2 separate regions of the Homo sapiens genome follow, and region 1 is linked to region 2. A link means that fine-mapping ties the variant in region 2 to the expression of a gene that starts in the linked region. Tissue or cell type: sigmoid colon. Region 2 holds a variant in brackets; the other region holds the start of a gene. All regions are shown on one strand. Distances are between the middles of the regions.

What was found. PIP is the estimated chance that this variant, and not a neighbour inherited with it, causes the effect.
Region 1: TUT7 starts here. The variant in region 2 is fine-mapped to the expression of TUT7 in sigmoid colon (GTEx, PIP 0.96).

Annotation. Positions count from the first base shown.
Region 1 is chr9:86,348,807-86,358,155 of GRCh38, forward strand. It overlaps TUT7 (terminal uridylyl transferase 7), which reads right to left and starts at 5,604. Exons shown (of 27, transcript NM_024617.4): 1 at 5,465-5,604; 2 at 3,874-4,424. The coding sequence starts at 4,393. RefSeq lists an enhancer at 5,453-5,662 and a silencer at 5,683-5,862.
Region 2 is chr9:86,400,175-86,411,384 of GRCh38, forward strand. No RefSeq gene overlaps it. Among named protein-coding and RNA genes, the nearest start is that of TUT7, 51 kb to the left of the region's middle. RefSeq lists an enhancer at 10,034-10,631. The variant T/C (reference allele first, on the strand shown) is at 5,226.

The DNA.
Region 1 (9,349 bases), 52 kb before region 2:
AACATAAAAACTGGAAAGAAATTACTAAAATCCCTTCTTGGAACATACCCATTCACATCTAGAGTGGACTAGCACTGAAAGGCAATATAACCTTCTAAACCTACTTTCACAGGCATGCATGGTAAAAACTGTCAAAATCTCACCGGAGGGACTCTTGGAGGGTAAAGCTAGGTACTGATGAAAAATTCTTGGCCAGGCGTGGCAGCTCATGCCTGTAATCCCAGCATTTTGGGAGGCCGAGGCAGGTGGATCACCTGAGGTCGGGAGTTCGAGACCATCCTGGCCAACATGGTGAAACCCTGTCTCTACTAAAAATACAAAAATTAGCTGGGCGTGGTGGCAGGCACCTGTAATCCCAGCTACTCGGGAGGCTGAGGCAGGAGAATTGCTTGAACTCGGGAGGCAGAGGTTGCAGTGAACCGAGATCATGCCATTGCACTCCAGCCTGGGCGACAAGAGTGAAACTCCATCTCAAAAAAAAAAAAGAAAAAAGAAAAATTCTCATAATTACTTGGAGGAAGACTACCTGGCTTACCTCAGATTTATTGTAATAAGAGTTCTCTATATTCGGCATTCCAAGTTTCCCATATTTTATTTGCATATGGTTCACAAAGGACATGTGTATTTGAGTGGATGCTTTCCAGCTAAGATCATTAATGGCAATGTCCCAAATACATTAAACTGGCAATCTAGGACATTTGAAGGCTAAAGTAGGGGCAGTAATGTAGAGCTGAAAAAAACAGAAGGTAGTACCGTATGTGGGGGGGAAAAAAGCAACTCCACCATAATTTCCATTATATCTTCTCACATTGTTGAATAATACCCTTCCTTATTAAGACACAATTTTGATAAAGAAATTTCGATCTCTTTAATGAGATCCTTTTTAGTTTATACTTTCAGTTGAATCTCTCTAAACTAAATAATGTTATACCGAAGCTTAATGCTTCCTATATGAAGATTTTCAAGGGATAGAAACTGAATAATTCTTTACTTAATAACTGTGAAAGCATATACCTGTATGTCATACAGCAAAAACATGCAAACTTTTGAATTACCTCCAATAAAAAAATAGCAAAATGCATTTCCTATTCAAATACACTTAAAAGCAACTTCTTTAGTTGCTTTTATAAGAATACACATAAAATAAGAAAACATATAAAAGTTTTTGTGGTCAGCCAACAGTTCCTTTTAATGTCTAGTTGCAAATTTTTGATCTATAAACTTTCTTTTTAAAATGCTTTTCAGCCGGGTGCAGTGGCTCACACCTGTAATCCCAACACTTTGGGACGTCAAGGCAGGCAGATCATGAGGTCAGGGTATCGAGACTACCCCTGGCCAACATGCTAAAACCCCAACTCTACTAAAAATACAAAAATTAGCTAGGTGTGGTGGCACGTGCCTGTAGTCCCAGCCACTCAGGAGGCTGAGGCAAGAGAATTGCTTGAACCTGGGAGATGGAGGTTGCAGTGAACCAAGATCGCACCACTGCACTCCAGCCTGGGCTACAGAGCGAGACTCCATCTCAAAAAAGAGAATAATAATAATAAAATGAAATGGTTTTCAAGATCAACTTCTACAAGACTATAGGTAACAAAATTAAATACCCACATCCCACCTGGACAGTAATACAGAAACACTTAAATATACACAATTTTTAATAAAGAAAAACACAAATCAAAAGCCCAGAAATTATCAAGAAATATTCGGCTCCGCCGTCAGGATTTCAGGTCCAGCGAGGCTGAGTTAATGGCCAGAGTAGCAGAGTCCCCAATTTTAGTTCTACTTCCTCATTTACCGCGCTGCATAAACAGGTCTGTGGAAATTTAACCTCTCTGAGCTGCAGCTGCCTGATTTGTAAAACTGTGATTCCATTTTTGATATATTACAACAGAGTACTGCATCAGATAATTCCTCAAGCTATTTCTAGCTTAAAGATTTAAGTTTTATGTCTCCCTACTACTTAACGCCTTTATAACACTTCATTCTGTTTCTGCTACTTGATATTAATATATACTCTTAATTTTCAAATTTAAAAATATCTGAGGGCCAGGCGCGGTAGTTCACGCCTGTAATCCCAGCACTTTGGGAAGCAGAGGCAGGTCGATCACTTGAGGTCAGGAGTTCAAGACCAGCCTGGCCAACAGGGAGAAACCCTATCTCTATTAAAAAACAGAAAAATTAGCTGGGCATGGTGGTGTGCACCTGTAGTCCCAGCTACTTGGGAGGCTGAGACATGAGAACCGCTTGATCCTGGGAGGCAGAGGCCACAGTGAGAGGAGGTCACATCACTGCACCTCCAGCCTGGGTGACACAGTGAGACTGTCTCAAAAAAAAAAAAAAAAAATCAGGCTGAATGTGGTGGCTCACGCCTGTAATCCCAGCACTTTGGGAGGCCAAGGTGGGTGGATCACTGGAGGTTAGGAGTTTGAGACCAGTCAGGCCAACATGGTGAAACCCTGTCTCTATTAAAAATACAAAAATTAGCCTGATGTGGTGGCATGTGCCTGTAGTCCCAGCTACTTTGGGGGATGAGACAGGAGAATCGCTTGAACCCAGGAGGCAGAGGTTGCAGTGAGCCAAGATCGCGCCACTGTACTCCAGCCTGGGTGACAGAGCGAGACTCCGTCTCAAAAAATAAAATAAAATATAAATAAACAGATCTGACAACTAGAAGTATCTGTGAAAAAAGAAAAAAAATCAAGTAGCACATTTCCCCCCATTTAATATTAATAAGTGCTTGAGACTTTCATTTTTATCCTAAGACCTTGTAAAGATAAAAGACGACCTTTTGGCTTTTAAGTATTCTATACGCATGGGACACAAATTCAAACACCTTATAGGTAACCAGTGTATGAACTGGCCACTGTGAGATAACATGAAGAGAAAAGGCATCGGGTGATCTAGAAAGTGTCCATATTCCCTGAATGCATTTAAACTAAAAAAATTTATTTAAAAGTGCTGGCCAGTTTGAAACACATTCTATACAACCACTAAAAAACGCTTTCAGCCACTAAACTTACAAGTCCATGTTTCCAACTGTGATATTGTTTCATTTTTTCCATCCAATTTGTGACTTTATTTCATTTCGGTATATATCTCCCATTAGATAAAAATAACCTTCCTGTTTGCAGAAATCGTTGCCACATGGATAAAATCTACTTTTTACTTTTAGAAAAACATATTATCTCCTTATTATCCCTTTGGGGCAATTAACCAAGCATGTGAGGGCACCGAGAAATTAGTTTTGGTCTTACTGAAACCAAACAGCAAAGCTTGAATCTATTTCTGACTTTCTAAACTTGTTTCTCAACCTGTTTGTCACGATCCCTTTTGAAAAACAAAGATCTCAGATTATCCATCTCGGGACACTGACACTACATCCAAAAGATATATCTCTTGTGGCAGGAGATATACGCAGTGTATACTGTGTTTTTACATCAACAAATAAGTTTTTTTTTTAAAAAAAGCTTTATATTCTGTCATTTATATTATGAACACATTAATTATTCAAATACAAAATTATAATCACAATTTTGAAAACACACAAACCACTGAGCAATTACGATATGGTCCCCTGGAGCATATAGCTACCCTCTTCTGTAAAAAACACGTTACAGAAAACATGTTTACTGACGTAAAGTGAGCCCTGGGGCAAAGTAAACTTTTAAAGGGATCAACATATGAAATGTGTTTTAGCTGCTCAAATATCATGATTACTATCCTTAAAATAATCACACTAAGTGACCATTTCTTAAAACAGAAACTGTGAAAAACTGAAACTAAATTGCTGAAAATAACAAAACTCATTTGGATGAAAAAGAATAAAACATTGCTGACTCTGGGGTTGTGATCTGACAAGTTGGAAAACATTACCAGGACTTCCTGCTTCCATTTCTGACGTGGTTTCTAGGCTTGTTAGGTCTTTATGAAACAGTCGTCTTACAGTTCTGCAGCCTCTTGTGTCTTGCCACCTATAACCATCTTCATTTTCTTGAAAGGAGTCTTTTCTTTGTCGGTTTATAACAGGAATTCTAGGTCCAGGTTTGAATTCTCTCCAGTTGTCTGAATTACCAGTATGTTCATCAGACAGCCATCTCTTACTCTGATCTTTGTGGCTGTCATTCATCCAAGCGGGTTGACTGTAGATTGGGTTTTTAAATGCATATGGATTGCTGGAAACAGCACATGGTCCTTTTCTGGGGGTATTCCCATAGTTCCCTGGTGTTATCTTCTTTTTTTGAAGGCCCTTTTCCATTTTACTGCCATGGCCTTTAGCATGGTCATCTATTATTAAATAATCTTGTTGGGGGTGACCCCTTCTGAAGTCATCATCATCCATAGTCCCCCGGTCTTTAGTGCGCTTCACGAAATAAGGTTTTGCTGTATCTCCCATGGTCTTTGACTTCAATTTTCTTACTTTGCACCTGAAAGAAGGTATTTTGGGGAAATATCAAACTATATAACAAGATATCATACAAGTATACAAAATAACAATTTATCGTACAGATGCCCCAAAGCCTGTAAGAAAGAAACTCCCTATTTTTTTAAAATAAAAATTCTATCACATTCTTAATAATCAGTGCTTTACCCTAGAGGTTGGGAGGCTTGGTCCTCTAATATTCTTCATGAAAATTAATACTTACTATTTAGCATGAAGATTAAATGTGTGAATAAGAGAAGCTCTATAGGTTCCAGAACTGTAGCATAGTAGAATATTACTCATATCAAGTATGGTCGGCTTTTCCCTCTGTAACAAGGCGTTTCTCTTCAAAGAAAACCTCATCCCAAGCCAATATTATTACTAAACTACCGAAACAGTCTTTTGTTTTTTAAGTTGGCAATTACTTGTAAGTGTTATACACCGAAACTTTACGTGAAAGGAGTACTACATTTCTCAACTCCAATTTTCCGTCCCTTCACCACCCCTATTCTGGACAGACCGGCTTTGAGCGCTTAGGTTACGGAGGGGCTGGGCTTCCGACCAAGGTGCAGCTGTAATTAAAGAGGCTGGGTTTCCGATCAAGGGACAACTCCATCTAACCTCCTCAATCCCCGTTCTCCAACCCCAAACAAGTTTGGTTTTGTCAGGAACAGCAATTCCCTGAGGAATGACACTCCTCTTCAATCCCCATCTGACCGCTCCACCACCGATCTGCCTTAGTTTCCACCCTTTTGAGCCCGACGTGGAGAAAGAGGAGGCGTCCCTGCACTCCTGGCCAAGAAGCCACCGTGGGGACCAGGAAGCAGGAAGTGACCTGCTGTCTCCATGGGGTTCCAGGGTTCCCCCGGCCGGCCAGGGGGCCAGAGCCGAATGTCTTGACCCAAATCCCGTCTTCTGCGCCCGCAGTCTGACAAAAAGTGAAAACACGGACTCGAACCCGAGGGCTCAGCCTCTGCCGGCCTGGGGGTTCCTCGGTCACCCAAACTGGTGCGAGGAGGCCGGCGGGGGATGGAACCAACGTACCTCCGGGGCCAGGCCGGACAGCTACTCTGGAGTCCAGGAAACCAACTGGAGAATCAGCCCGGAGGCGAGTCTGGCAGGGACGTTGGGAGAAGGCGCCCAAGAGCACTCACCACCTTCGCCGCGGTCCCCAGCCTCTTCCTGTCCCGGCCGGGCTCCCTCTCCGTGTTTTCCTTCGGCCCCACTTCCGGCGCTCAGCGCTGTCTCATTGTGCGCGATTGGGAGCCGACTGTGCCCCCGCCCTAGCGCTCCGCCGCGCACACCGGAAACGAGCGACGCGCCCCGCCCCGCGGTGCCCCGCCCACGCTCCGACCCCGCCTCCCGCGCCTTTGCCAGCCTGGCCTCTCCTGTCCGGCGCCCCAGCGCACTCGCTCCAGGTGTCGGGCGCCGGGTCTGGCCACCGGGCGCAACCGTCGGAGCGGGCTAATTACTGGCTCGCCGGATAGCCGGTTCGCCGGCGCTTGGGGGCCAGGCCCGAACTTCTTACCAGAGCGGCGCCCGCCCCTTTTCTCTCCCGGCTTCGACGCTCCTCTGGTTCCCCTCTCTGCTCGGGAGGCTAAGTGCTCGGGAGAGGCGCGGGAGCCAAGACTTATGCACCCGGAGAGGGACGCGGAGCCAGCGGTCGGGCAAAGCCGCATTCCCCGCGCTTGGGGCCTCGGCTTTGCCCCTGGGTGCTCCCCGGTTACTTCCAGGGGGAGTAAAGGCTCCGAGGCCTCGTAGCGCTCTTGGTGTTTTTCTGATAATTCGTAGTGATTAATGTTTTCGTGAATTCTTAATTGCCGACCTTGTAGAAATGCCAGCATTTAAACATCCACTGCTCACCCAGATCTCAAAGTGGTCAAGGAAAATGCTCTGCTTTTTTCTTAGGTTGTGTAAGGATTACTTTTACTTGGAAAAAAAAAAAATCAGTTCATTTCGAAGAATATGTGTAATGGCAAGGGATGACCAGAGAGCGTTACATTCGAATTTTTGAGTTGAAGAGTGCACACCTCGAACTCGGGGTTGCTTTTTCTTTCTTTACTGTATGACCTTCCTTGCTGTTTACAGTGTTCTAAATGCTTTGAAAAACATCAAGCAACTAGTGAAATTAGGGAGCGTTGGGAAAATCGACAGTTTTCATTTCTCTGCTTTTTTAAAGCATGTAAATTGAAAGCTGTCAGGTCCTGTGGAGCAATGGTCTTAAAATAATAACACACAAAGTTCTGGCTATGCCAATAACTGTTTTGAAGGCTTTACAAATATTAACTCCTTTGTTTTATATTTTTGTAGAGACAGGGGTCTCCTATGTTGCCCAGGCTGCTCTCCAATTCCTGACCTCAAGCCATCCGCCCAACTTGGCCTCCCAAAGTGTTGGGATTACAGGGGTGGTCCACCATACCCAGCCTTAACTTCTTTAATCCTCACAGCTTCATGAAGACTATATCATTATCCCACTTTTAAAGATGAGGACATTTAGCACTTGCAGTGAAGTAAATGGCACTGCTGCAATCCAGACCCTGAATATGAGGCTGTTATTAACCATGTGGCTATACTAAAAGTGATATAAAACACATTCCTACAACTTTTATATAATTCCTTACTTAGATATTTTGATTGTGAAAATACGTGAGGATCAAACTGATAGTCTCTTCAACAGGCAGACAGTGGCCTTGAAAATATAGTCCAAAAGGGAGTGTGGAGATGCATGATTACATTAATTCTGAGACAGCAGCGTCACCACGCCCCACCCAAACCAGTAATTCCTGTGCAAAAGAACTGGTTTAGAAATCTGCCTCCACCTAGAGTTCTAGAGTAGCAGCAGAGGATACATACTTTTAAGGATTTTTTTTTTTTTTTTGAGATGGAGTGCCACTCTGTTGCCCAGGCTGGAGTGCAGTGGCATGATCTCCGCTGGCTGCAACCTTTGCCTCCACCTAGAGTTCTAGAGCAGCAGCAGAGGATACATCTTTCTAAGGATTTAATTTTTTTTTTTTGAGACAGAGTCTTACTGTGTTGCCCAGGCTGGAGTGTAGTGGTGCGATCTTGGCTTACTGCATCCTCTGCCTCCCAGGTTCAAGTGATTCTCCTGCCCCAGCCTCCCAAGTAGCTGGGATTGCAGACAGGCACCACTATGCCTGGTTAAGTTTTGTATTTTTAGTAGAGACGGGGTTTCACCATGTTGGCCAGGCTGGTCTGGAACTCCTGACCTCAAGTGATCCACCGGCCTTGGCCTCCCAAAGTGCTAGGATTACAGGCGTAAGCCACCAGGCCTGGCCCGATTTAAAATACTTTTGCCAGGCACTTTGGCTCCTGCTTGTAGTCCCAGCAACCCTGGAGACTGAGGTAGGAGGATACCTTAAGCCCAGGAGTTGGAGGCTGCAGTGAGCTATGATGGTGCCACCACACTCCAGCCTAGGCAACAGGGCAATACCCTGTCTCTCTCAAAAATAAATTTAAAAAATAAAACGTTTTGAATTTGCGTTTTCTTCAACGTCTTTCCCAAAGCCCAACTTCTTTTATTCTAATGGTTGCTTTTAAGATTCATTTTGAGGACAAATCAGGCTCTCTCAAATAAGATGCAGTACTAATCAAAATATATTGACAGCAGAATATACCTTTTTCTGTCCATATTATGCTGTAATGGATATTTAAATTGGTCCTAGGAATTCTTACAATCTGGTTGGAAATTTTGATTTGAGTTTTCTTTGGATGTCACTGGAAGGATTAATGAGTTTCTCAGAATCTTTATGGTGATTGCTTCACGGTCTTGACATATTTCCAACAACCTGGAGCAGAAATGTGAGGGCAAAGGCTGCCATATACTGTTAAGCAATGTTCAGAGGACCTTAATACTGCTCCATATGTTACAATATATTTTCTATCTTGAGCTTAACATTGTAATACAACTTGAAATCTTGTGATTCTATCTCGAAATTAACATTTAATACATAATATGTCTTGACATTCTTGTAATTCTATCTAGAAATTAACATTGTAGTACATGTAATACATCTTGGCATTTTTGTAATTCTATCTTGAAATTCACATTGTAATACATGTAATACATCTTGAAGTTTACATTGTAACACATGTAATACATCTTGACATTCTTGTAATTCTATCTTGAAATTAACATTGTAATACATCTTGACAAGTCAACTTTGAACAAACCCAGTGCTTTTTTTCTATACAGCCATGGAGTCAGAAATACAGGAATTATATTCATAGCTTTATCAGCCAAATTCTTTCCCCAGTGTTTTATTTTGTTTGGTTTGGTTTGGTTTTCGGTTTTTAGAGCTCTAATGCTTAAATGCCAGCGGTTTTTATCCACATTGTTAGCAAGTTATGTTGGTTTGTCCTTCAAATCTGTCTGGAGTCCAGTAACTTATCACTACTTTCTCTGCTTCCAGCCAAATGCTCACCACTATCACTTGCTTCCACCTTGTCCTCCAATCTACTCTTGACACAATAGCCAGAAAATGCATATTAAAAATCAGACTGAGTTACCCCTCAAAACCTTTCACTGGCTCCCAATTTCTCTGGGAGTAAAAACCAAAATCCTTCAATGACTCAGGGCCTTTCCCTTTACCTCCCGATCTCAGCCCTTATTCCTCTTACCCCAGTGGTATAATATAAAATATATTTGGCCTTTGTCCCCAGTTTCTGTCATAGAGCTCTTAAAATCCTTGAAATTTCCTGAGTGATAGAAGTGTCTTTCCGTGTTTATAGTGAGCCCCTAAACTCCTGAGTTTATGCTAATGAGATGATTTAGGATGGGGGCCCTACATAGCCTCAGCATGGGGCTAATCACCAGAAAGACCAAGTGATTGGAGGATTAGAGGGTTAGAACTTTGAGCTTCACCAACTGACCTCTGTGAAGGGGAGGAGGGGGCCGGAGATCAAGCTCTC
Region 2 (11,210 bases):
TGTACTTTTGCTAGATATTGCCCGTTTCCTTTCCGTAGGTAACATTTTGTACCGCCCAGGAGGGAAGGAGAGCGTGTGCTTTCCCACAACCTCTCTTGTTTGTCAAGAGTTTACATTTCTGCCAATCTGATAGGTGCAAAATAGCATCTCATATAGTTTTTTGTTTGTTTGTTTGTTTGTTTTTTTTGAGACAGAGTCTTGCTCTGTCGCCCAGGCTGGAGTGCAGTGGCCCGATCGCGGCTCACTGCAGCCTCCGCCTCCTGGGTTCACACCATTCTCCTACCTCAGCCTCCTGAGTAGCTGGGACTACAGGCGAGCGCCACCACGCCCTGCTAAGTTTTTTTTGTATTTTTAGTAGAGACGGGGTTTCACTGTGTTAGCCAGGGTGGTCTCAATCCCCTGACCTCGTGATCCACCTACCTCGGCCTCCCTAAGTGTTGGGATTACAGGCGTGAGCCACTGCGCCCAGCCGCATCTCATATAGTTTTAACATGTGCTTCTTTTTTATGAGTTGAGCATCTTTTCATGTTTTTTCTTTTCTTTCTTTCTTTTTTTTTTTTAAGACAAAAATCTCACTCTGTTGTGGAGTGCAATGGTGCGATATTGGCTTACTGCAACCTCCGCCTCCCTGGTTCAAGCAATTCTCCTGCCTCAGGCTCCTGAGCAGCGGTGATTACAGGTGTGGTGGAGGGCTAATTTTTGGTATTTTTAGTAGAGATGAGGTTTCACCGTGTTGGCCAGGCTGGTCTTTAACTCCTGACCTCAGGTGATCCCCCTGCCTCAGCCTCTCAAAGTGCTGGGATTACAGGCGTGAGCCACCACACCCAGCCTCATGTGTTCTTTTCCTTTTTAAAAATATATATAAAACTTTGGTCATAATATTGGAATTGAATTATTCATCAGGGCTGAAATAAAATGAAACAAAACTTTTTTTCCCAAAGAATCTCTATCTTGGTGGCTTCACGTACATAAGAAATAGTTTTATGATGTATTAGAGAACAATGGATTTAAAGATAAAGCATGATTTTGTAACAATATTACAAAACAGTTTGAGGCATGAAGTTAAAAAAAGTCACTATCTGAGTGGAATAAGTTCTACAGTTCTGTATTTTCTCCATGCAAATTTGGAGAAAGGTTAATGATAATCTCTTTGTCTGGTATATCACTCTATTACAAAAGGCTCTTACTTGCTTCTTTTCTTTTTTTGAGACAGTCTCCCTCAATTACCCAGGCTGGAGTGCACTGGTGCGATTTCGGTTTACTGCATTCCCAACCTCCTGGGCTCATGTGATTCTCCCATCTCAGCCTCCCGAGTAGCTGGGACTACAGGTGTATGCCACCACACCCGGCTAATTTTTGTATTTTTTGTAGAGATGGGGTTTCACCATGTTGCCCAGGCTGGTCTCGAACTACTCGCTCAAGCCATCAGCCTGGCTCAGCCTCCCAAAGTGCTGAGATTACAGGCGTGAGTCACCACGCCCTGCCCAAGAATCTCACTTTTAATACTGTGGGGCACATTGGACCCATTTTATCCCATTTTATGGATGAGAAAACTGAGACTGAGAGAGGTTTGGAGACTTGTGCAAGGCTATGTGACTAATAAGAGGCAGAGTCACAATTAGAACTCTGGGCCGGGTGCGGTGGCTCATGCCTGCAATCCCAGCACTTTGGGAGGCCAAGGCGGGTGGATCACCTGAGATCAGGAGTTCAAGACCAGCCTGGCCAACATAGTGAAACCCTATCTCTACTAAAAACACAAAAAATTTAGCTGGACATGGTGGCGGGCACCTGTAATCCCAGCTACTCAGGAGGCTGAGGCAGGAGAATCACTTGAAACTGGCAGAGGTTGTAACGTGAGCCGAGATTGCACCATTGCACTCCAGCCTGGGCAATGAGAGCAAAACTCTGTCTCAAACAAACAAACAAACAAACAAAAAAAGAAATAGAACTCCGGCTGTTTGATCAGTATTCTTCAAGTCACTAAAAATTAAACATTAAATTGTGAATTCACATCCTGGGTATTTACGTTTCAGTGGTAGTTCAGAATTTAGGGTTTTTCTTGTGTATTGATAGAAAACTCATTTTAAAAATACTGATTATGGCAATGCAGTTAGTAAGCTAAAATTTTTTCCTTCTATTACTTTTTGTCTTTTTTTAAATTTGAAGTGGAGTCGTGCTCTGTCACCCAGGCTGTCTGGAATGCAGTGGTGCAATCTCAGTTCACTGCAACCTCCACCTCCCGGGTTCAAGCGATCCTCCCACCTCAGCCTCCTGAGTAGCTGGGACTACAAGCACCCACCAGGTTTTTTGTTTTTTTTTAGTAGAGATGGGGTTTTGCCATGTTGCCCTGTCTGGTCTCTGACTCGTGAGCTCAAGTAATCCTCTTGCCTCGGCCTCGCAAAGTCCTTGGATTACAGGTGTGAGCCACTGTGCCCAACCTTCTAAGTTAATGATGTTAATTAAATATTTTTTCATTTGGGGCATGCCCAGCAACTCAGGGTAAGCCAAATTTATAGTTTATGGAGATGCTAAGTAAAGTGGAGACACAGTTTATGCATATGCAGAGGACTCATCTGCCATTTTCAGACTTTCTTGGGTGTTCCTATCAGTTTCCTGTCAGTGACTTCCTCTCTCCCTGATGGTAAAAACTAAACTTGGTAACGTGGTCTGCAGCCCCTGAGAAACCTGCTCCTTCCAACCTCCCGGCTTCATGCTGCTCATTCTCCCCAGCGTTCTTTTTGCCCTAAACACACATTGCATTCTTTCAGTCCTCCAACTTGCCACCCATATTCCTCTTCCTGGGGTGCTTTGCTCTATTTTCTTCACCTAGTTAAGGTCTCATCATTCAGTTCTCAGGCCAAGCATTGCTTATTTGTGGAAGAGGTCTCTGATCCCCCTGGCGAGGCCAGCTTCCCTGTTCATTCTCTCATTGCACCATGAGAGGGCTGCATAGCCCTCCTGACCACTGTCATTTTATAGACTTTTGTGCAGTGACTTGATTAGTGTCTGTCTTTCTCATTGGTGTGTGAATGCCAGGACTCTGGTTTTGCTCAACATGGGGTTCCACAGCCTGGCATAGTTCCTTTGCACATGGCAGGAGTTCAGCAAATATTGATGGGTGCATGACTTTGTTCATGGTTGTCTCTGTGCATCTGCACGGGGGTTCCCTCTGCTTGGCATGCCACTTACACACTGTCTCATCTCTAGATCTTTTTGCACCTTAATATTTTGAGCCTTTAGTAGAAATACATACAGTAGGTTCTCACTTAATGACCTCAATCGGTTCTTGGAAACTGTGACTTTAAGCAAAATGATGTGTGACAAAACCAATTTTTTTTAATCAACGTTATAATAAAACAATGTTGAACAAAACGATGCTATTTGAGGACCTGCTACACATAGTTCTGCTTAAAGTCGCAGTTTCCAAGAACCTATCAAAAACGTTAAGTGAGGACTTACTATGTGTTTAATCATATGATATTTTATGTAACCCAGCTAGCAGCTGAGGCCACATTGCCTTCTAGCTCTACTTCTGCCTGTATTTTTTCTGCTTTATGATCTGTCAACTTGGACACAAACCCCACTCATACTCTTAACCCACTTCCAAGCCTTTATGGGCTTAGTGGCTTTGGTGAGACTTTGAGGGGCTGTCTTCTTTATCACTGCATTGACTCTTCTTTTTTCTCTCTCTTTTAACTTTCTCTTTCCTTCAGTCTCTTCTTCCTCCTTCACTTCAGGAGTGTCACAGACATCTCACCCTTCTCAGGATAATTTTGTGGAAGCCACAGTGCCAGCCAACATCCATGACCCCATGGGTACCTCCCTGGCTGAAGTGGGCTGACCCAGGGTCTTTTCCCAACAATGATGGATCCTGTACAAGATGAATTCTGGTACCTGCTGCTAAAAGGATACAATTTCATTATTGTTATGGGCTGAATGTTGTGTACCTCCAAAATGGGTATGTTGAAATCCTAACCCCCAAGGTGATGGTATCAGGAGGTGGAGGCTTTGGGAGGTGATTAGGCAATGATGAAGAAGCCCTCTTGAATGGGATTAGTGCCCCTTTAGAAGGCACCCCATAGAACGCCCTCATTATGTGAGACACAGTGAGAAGAACCAGGAAGCAGGCCCTCACCAGACATGGAATCTATCAGTGTCTTGATCTGGGACACTCCAGCCTCCAGAACAGTAAGAAATAATAAGTTCCTGTTGTTTATAAGCCAACCAGTTTATGGTATTTTGTTATAAAAGCCAAAATAGACTAAGAACATTATGTTATATTAGAGTGATATCATATAACTGATCAAGTTTGGAGGATGTCCAGTGCCCTAGCCCATGCCGTCTGAGGAGAGGTTGATGAAGAGAATGATGAGAGGAAGTGAGAATAACTTTCTCACCTTTCCTGAGACACATTCCTCCTACCATGGTCCCATTACGGGGCCTTCCTACAATCACTTTCCAGCTTTCCCTTGTTTCCCTGTTTCTACCCTCAGACAAAGTAGTAGAATGATTACATTCTCAAGAGGTCCTGTGAGGATGCTTGGGCAAAATCAGACTCATGTCAGGCCATTTTAATTTCTAGAATCCCCGGATAGGACCTGCGGCCAGCTCAGAAAGACCTGATGGTAATGTGCCATCTTCCCTTCACAAACACTTGAGTGGGTCTGTCTAAATGTCCTAAGTGGACATTTCTGTTATCCTCAGTTTTTCTTCCAGGGTTCGTCGCATTTCTTTGTGAAAAGCTACCTTATGCAAGCATTTTGTGTGATACTGTTCAGAGTCTGAGGTTTTAGCGCTGACCCTGGAGACCGTTAGTTTTATTCTATACTAGGTGTTTGTAAGTGGGGACTTTATTTAGATAAATTGACAACAGCAAAGTGCCACCCCACTTCACCCCAACATTCATTAAGGATTTGCTGTGTCCCAGAAATTATACTCTGGTGGTTATACACATTGCCTCATTATATCCTTAAAACTGCTTTTTGAGACAGATAGGATTGTGATTCCTGTAGCAATCTTGAAACTGGACTCAGAGAGGGTAGGAAGTTTGTTCTAAGGCGCACAGCTATGACCAGCACAACTGAATCTTACCTTAACTCACATCAAAGCCTCTGAGCTTAAATATTAGGCTATTTACCATGGCTGTGAGAGACGGGGAACAAAAAACAGTGTTTAGTTAAATCAACAGCTATGTTTACACTCTCTGTATAAACAGTGCAATGTCC[T/C]CAAAGAAATCACACAAGAAGGAACAGTAACTCCTGCCAACACACTGGTAAACTTGGCTCTGCCAAAACTATTAGCTCTTGTTTTCACTCATCAATGTCTTATGTTTCTTTTGCCATCATCTTTTTTTATTCATTAACCCCAGAGCCTCAACTATCTCTCATTTAAGATAATTGTTCTTATAGTTTTCCAGAAAAACCCATTTCTCCTTTTACTTTTTCCTAGTATCTCTTCCCATAAAAGGCAATGCCCCTAAATTTGTATCATTCCAGGCATTAGAGAACCAAGCTCAGAAACACTTATAAGATTTTTAAGGTTATCGTTCTCCCCCCAAAACACATGCACATTACCTTTGCAGAGTTATTATTCAAAATATAGACTTAGAAGCTCTCTGGGCTATAGTCAGCTGGTAATTAATTATAATGACTTCAAGGTATGTTAAATTTGTACGGGGGTGGGGAGAGGGTCACTTGCAGCCTCAAGAGGACAGAGCACACCGTGAACCAGTTCTGGAACCTGCTTACAGATCTCAAAAGTTCCTGCAGCAGGAGGGCTAATGACATTCTCCCTTCTAGAAAAGCAGAGTGACTCAGGATACAGATGTTCCGCCTACCCTGCATTTGTAATTATGAGCTGGCTGTGGTACTTCCCAGGGAGTCTTTGAATCATCTGTTCTTGCAATTTATCTTGCCGCTGCTCTTTTTAGAACAATCTAGGACATGTCAGCTGAAAACATGTACCAGTTGCTTGCAAAGAAAAGAATGGCTTTTTGTGTGGGGGTGGGGGACACAGAGCGTTCTCTTCCTCCCTCTCTGCTGGGGAACATGGTAGGCAGAATGAGCTAATAATTCTCAGAGAAAAAAATATGAGCCCTGAAGAACCCCAATGCCTAGAGAGCACGAAGTGAAGGTAGCTTAATGTTAGTCCTGGTGTGTATACAATGAGGGCCAGAGCTTCAGGAAGACGTGCTAATTTCACTTTAATTAACACATACTAATGCAAAGGAGATGAACCAGAGAAACTTGAATTTGCAGGCAGACTCATGAAACAAAAGTAAACCTGGTACCTATTGTGAAATCATCTTTGGTGCAGTGTGGCTCAGGAATGTGCCACTCCTGATACTTTTTTTCATCTGCACGTGAGTGTCTGGACTCTGGATTCAGAAAAACAGATGGAACTTTAGGTCAGATGGGTTCCTGAGTCACCCCGACACAGGGGGCAGGCTGTATTTTAAAAATTTGTTGAGTATTTATTTGTACAAAGCATTCTGTAAGGCACTAAACCGTAGTTTCTGCTCTAGTCTTCTTTCAATGACGGGTTCTGGGAGGGGTGATGGAAGCAGAAGTGATAGTTATTTATGTCACAGACTTTGAGAGCAAAAACGTACTTCAGAGGAATGCTTCTCAAAGATTTCTCAAATGCAGGTTCATGGACTAGTGATAATTATGAAATTAACAATTTGGACAAAATGAGAGACAAAGAAACAAGGTGAGCTTTGTATAAAGCTAAATGTGTTCAGTTGAAAAAATTTTTTTTCTTTAGAACATGTGTCCTACTTTTCTTATTTTTAAAAGACCATTTCATGGTGATTTTAGGGGAATAAGACCATTCTCCTTTACCCTCTCATTTCTGCCCCCTTTTCTGCCAGAGGAGAAGCACCTCAAGAAACTGACATCCAGATGGGAATCAAAGTCCCATTTTTGACCTAGTTAAGCCCTGCTTCCAGGCCAGCTCTCGTGAAGCTGCGATATGGACTTTTAGTTGGCAGGCCTGAGGGCAGCCTTCTACTTTCTCCCCTGAAACCAGATTCAGACAGGTCCCTTCTACAAGGTCCTTCTGACTCATTCCTGGTCACGGGCAGAGGGGGTGGAGCAGAAAGTGAATTACAGATTTGCTGAGGTCAGCCCTGCTCAGCTTGCTGGCTACACAAAGATAAAGACATTTACAGGTAACACTGACTCTGTACCTTGCCCACTGGGGAACCATGCACTGTGATGCCAGCCCTCACTCATCAGATTCAGTACTTCTCTTCCTTTTGGATGGCAGGGAAGTGGAGTGGAAGCTTTCCTCCCCGCATTGGTCTAGAGGTAGAAGTGTGCGGGGAGGAAGATCTTTCCTCCATGGATCAACATGGGGAATGCAGGGGGGTGCTGGGTAAGCTGCGGTATTCACTAAAAGAGCCTCAAGAAGCCTTGAATTTCATTGCAACCTGCCAGCATTGGATAGCTTAGAGTTATCCAAAGAATCATAAGTGTTCTTAATTCCACAGCTGGGCTAAGAAGGATTTTTTTTTTATTGAAGATTAAAGTGTTAAATGCTGGTAAAATACACATAACATAAAATTTACCACGTTAATCATTTTTAAATCCACAGTTTAATGGCATTAAGTACATTCACATTGTTATGCTATCATTGCTACTATCCAAACTGAAACTCTATGCCCATTAAACAATAACTCCCCATTCTCATCTCCTCCCAGTTCCTGACAACCATTCTGCATGTCTTTATGATTTTTTTGTTTTTTTTTTGAGACAGGTTTCACTCTTTTGCCCAGGCTGGAGTGCAGTGGCACGATCTTGGCTCACCGCACCCTCAACCTCTGGCCACAAGTGATCTTCTCATCTTAGCCTTCTAAGTAGCAGGGACTATAGGCATGTGCCACTATGCCCAGCTAAATTTTTGTATTTTTTGTAGAGGTGAGGTCTTACCATGTCACCCAGGCTGGTCTCAAACTCCTGAGCTTGAGCAATCTGCCTGCCTCTGCCTCCCAAGGTGCTAGGGTTATAGGTGAATACCACTGCACCCAGACTTCTCTATGAATTTAACTGCTCCAGATTCCTCATGTAAGTGGAATTGTGCAGTATTTATCTTTCTGTATCTGGCTTATTTCGCTTAGCCTAAGTCCTCAGGGTTCATCAATGTTGTAGCATGTGTCAGAATGTCCTCCCTTTTTAAGACTGAGTCATATTCTATTGCATGTATTTAACTGTTTGTTCTCTAAGGGATTTGAGACAAACCCTCAGCATGGTAGCCAGTACCTGCCACATTAATATGAATAGTTCTGGGAATGGCCTAAAGTTTTGTGGGCAATTCTAGCATCTTCCTGAGCACAGAGCTGGAGAGTGCACAGAGGCCCAGGGTAAATTCTGTATCTCTGCTGAGAAACAGCTATTGCAACCAAGAAAGAGGTATGGGGTGCCTACCCAGTCCCTGGGCACTATTTCAGTGGCTGCTCCCTTAAGATCCCTCCCATTGGAAGCTCGCTTGTGGATTGTACCTCAAACTATTGGCTTGCTCTTGAAAGTGCCTTTTGTGCTGGTGGGATCCTACAATCCTCTGTCTGTAGCACTTACGAAAGAGACAGTTTTGCTGTCAGGATTATGTTCTTGAGAAGTTTCTACTATACCCCAAATCAAGTGAGAGAAAATGTTGAACCTTAATGTCTTCAGCCTTTAATTTACCAAAGTCAAAGGATTTCATCTTTAGACTTCAACCTCTCTTTGAAACTGTAATCACTGATGTGAGTTTATGTAAATTTGGGCATTTTTGTGTGGTTGGCTTTGCCTTATTTGGAACATTTTAGACTTTCATGTGGTGTTTATTATAAAATGTCATGAGTTATGTTGGGTATTAGGTGGAATATAATTGGAGATGGAAAATTTAAAAAGCAATGAATTTTGGCTTTCAGTGTGTGCAGTCTTGAAGTTTTCTTCTTTCTTTTTTTCCATTTTATTTTATTTCATTTTATGTTTTTAGAGACAGAGTCTTGCTATGTTGCCCCAGCTGGTCTCGAACTCCAGGGCTCAAGTGATCTTCCCACCTCAGCCTCCTGAGTAGCTAGGACTACAGGCATATACCATCATGCCCAGCAAAGTTATCTTAATTCTGTCCTTACTGATTTCAGAGCCTTCTGGGGCAATAGCTGAGCTGCCCATTTTACAGATCCCAGAAGCAGACACAAGGAGAAGCATGGGATGGGAGTAGGGCTCAGCTTTGTGGAGGTGGAAGGGGCACTGCTCTGAGATTACTCTGCCCACTGGCTTCAGGTGTGTTTATGAAATCTCACTGATGGAGAGATGCCAGCTAGTGTCTCCTTAGTCTGCCTTAAGAGACCCTCTGTTACTCTGCAGGCATTAGGCACTTGACCAATCCACTAATAAAGTTGTTTTTTTTTGATCTTCATCTGGATCTCAGTGTCAATTCTCCACTGGTTGGAACCAGCGTGGGAGGAGGGATGATCAGAGTTGTTATCTTTAATGTATTTCTTTTTTTCTTTTTCTTTTTTTTTGAGATGGAGTCTTGCTCTGTAGCCCAGGCTGGAGTACACTGGTGCAATCTTGGCTCACTGCCACCTCCATTTCCCGGGTTCAAGCAATTCTCCTGCCTCAGCCTCCTGAGTAGCTGGGATTTCAGGTGCCCGCCACCATGCCCAGCTCATTTTTGTATTTTTAGTAGAGATGGGGTTTCACCCTGTTGGCCATGCTGGTCTTGAACTCCTGACCTCAAGTGATCTGCCAACCTCGGCCTCCCAAAGTGCAGGGATTACAGACATGAGCCACCACTCCTGGCCCTTTAATGTATTTCAAACAACAAAGAGTTGGCAAGCCCATGTGAATTCCCAAAATTAATTCTTTTTTTCTTTGAGATGGAGTCTCGCTCTGTCGCCCAGGCTGGAGTGCAGTGGCGCGATCTTGGCTCACTGCAAGCTCTGCCTCCCGGGTTCACGCCATTCTCCTGCCTCAGCCTCTTGAGTAGCTGGGACTACAGGCGCCCGCGACCACGTGCAGCTAATTTTTTGTATTTTTAGTAGAGACAGGGTTTCACAGCATTAGCCAGGATGGTCTCGATCTCCTGACCTCGTGATCCACCCGCTTTGGCCTCCCAGAGTGCTGGGATTACAGGCGTGAGCCACATCACCCGGCCAATTAATTTTTTTTTTTTTCAAACTGATCCATGGACTCATCTTCTGGAATCCACTGCCTTAAAGATCATGCAAATCTATGTGCTCATTTTACAAAAGAGGAATGTGAAGCCCAGGGAGTTTATTTAACTTGCTGATGGGCACAGATGGTGATCAAGCTGTGCTCAGAGCTGCAAGCTGTTTCCATCAAACCTGCTAGAAGCCTCCAGCTGAGATTAGGGCCCCGGCCACATTCACCTCCTAGGATTTGCAGTGGTGTAAAACGTGCCCCAGGATGTGCAGTGGTCTGGGGGAAGGCGGGAGAGACCCCTGGACCTGTGCTGGCATAGCTACCATGTCCATGACACTGGGAGGCTAAGATGGAGAGGAAAACAAGATGAGTCCAGCTTCCCTACTCAAAAGCCACAAAACAGTACAGTCAAGGACAATCCTGGTCTCATCTACACTATAGGCATTTCAGGAGGACCAAATTAGGTAACCAAGATGTGGGTGCTTGAAAAATTATGATGTATAATCTGAAAGCAATGTTAGCATCAGGCTACCGAGACAATCTTGTGTGGGCCAAGTGTGGAATCAGCATCATCATTTTATAAGCATGCTTCATGGGCCAGGTTTTCACATCAGCCTTGATATCTCCATCCAAAGCAAACTCACCCATTCATACTGGAGAAAAACTCTTCTTGATTTTTATGTAGTGAACTGAGATTCCTCTAATGCCTCACAAAGATATTTTTCCAATTTCAGATGGGAACCTGTCTTCCTTAAACTTTTCCTTTTTATAGCCCCCTGTAAAGATTTTGATATCATCTCATGTAATCTTCTTATTCCCAATTTTTTAAATGAGTTCTTTAGAGTTCTTCATTATACTGTGAGTAGAAAATTCCAAGTTATCAGTTTATCTGTTTTAGCCAAGGATTGAAAAGACATTTAGTATAATTTACAAGGAGGAAAATGTAAGGAAATAGGAGATTTTAACTAGATATTAAATAGAAGGAAACAAAACAACCTTTACAACTGCTTTTCTTGCTTTAGAATATTATTTTTAAGATTTAGCCTGAAATTGAGA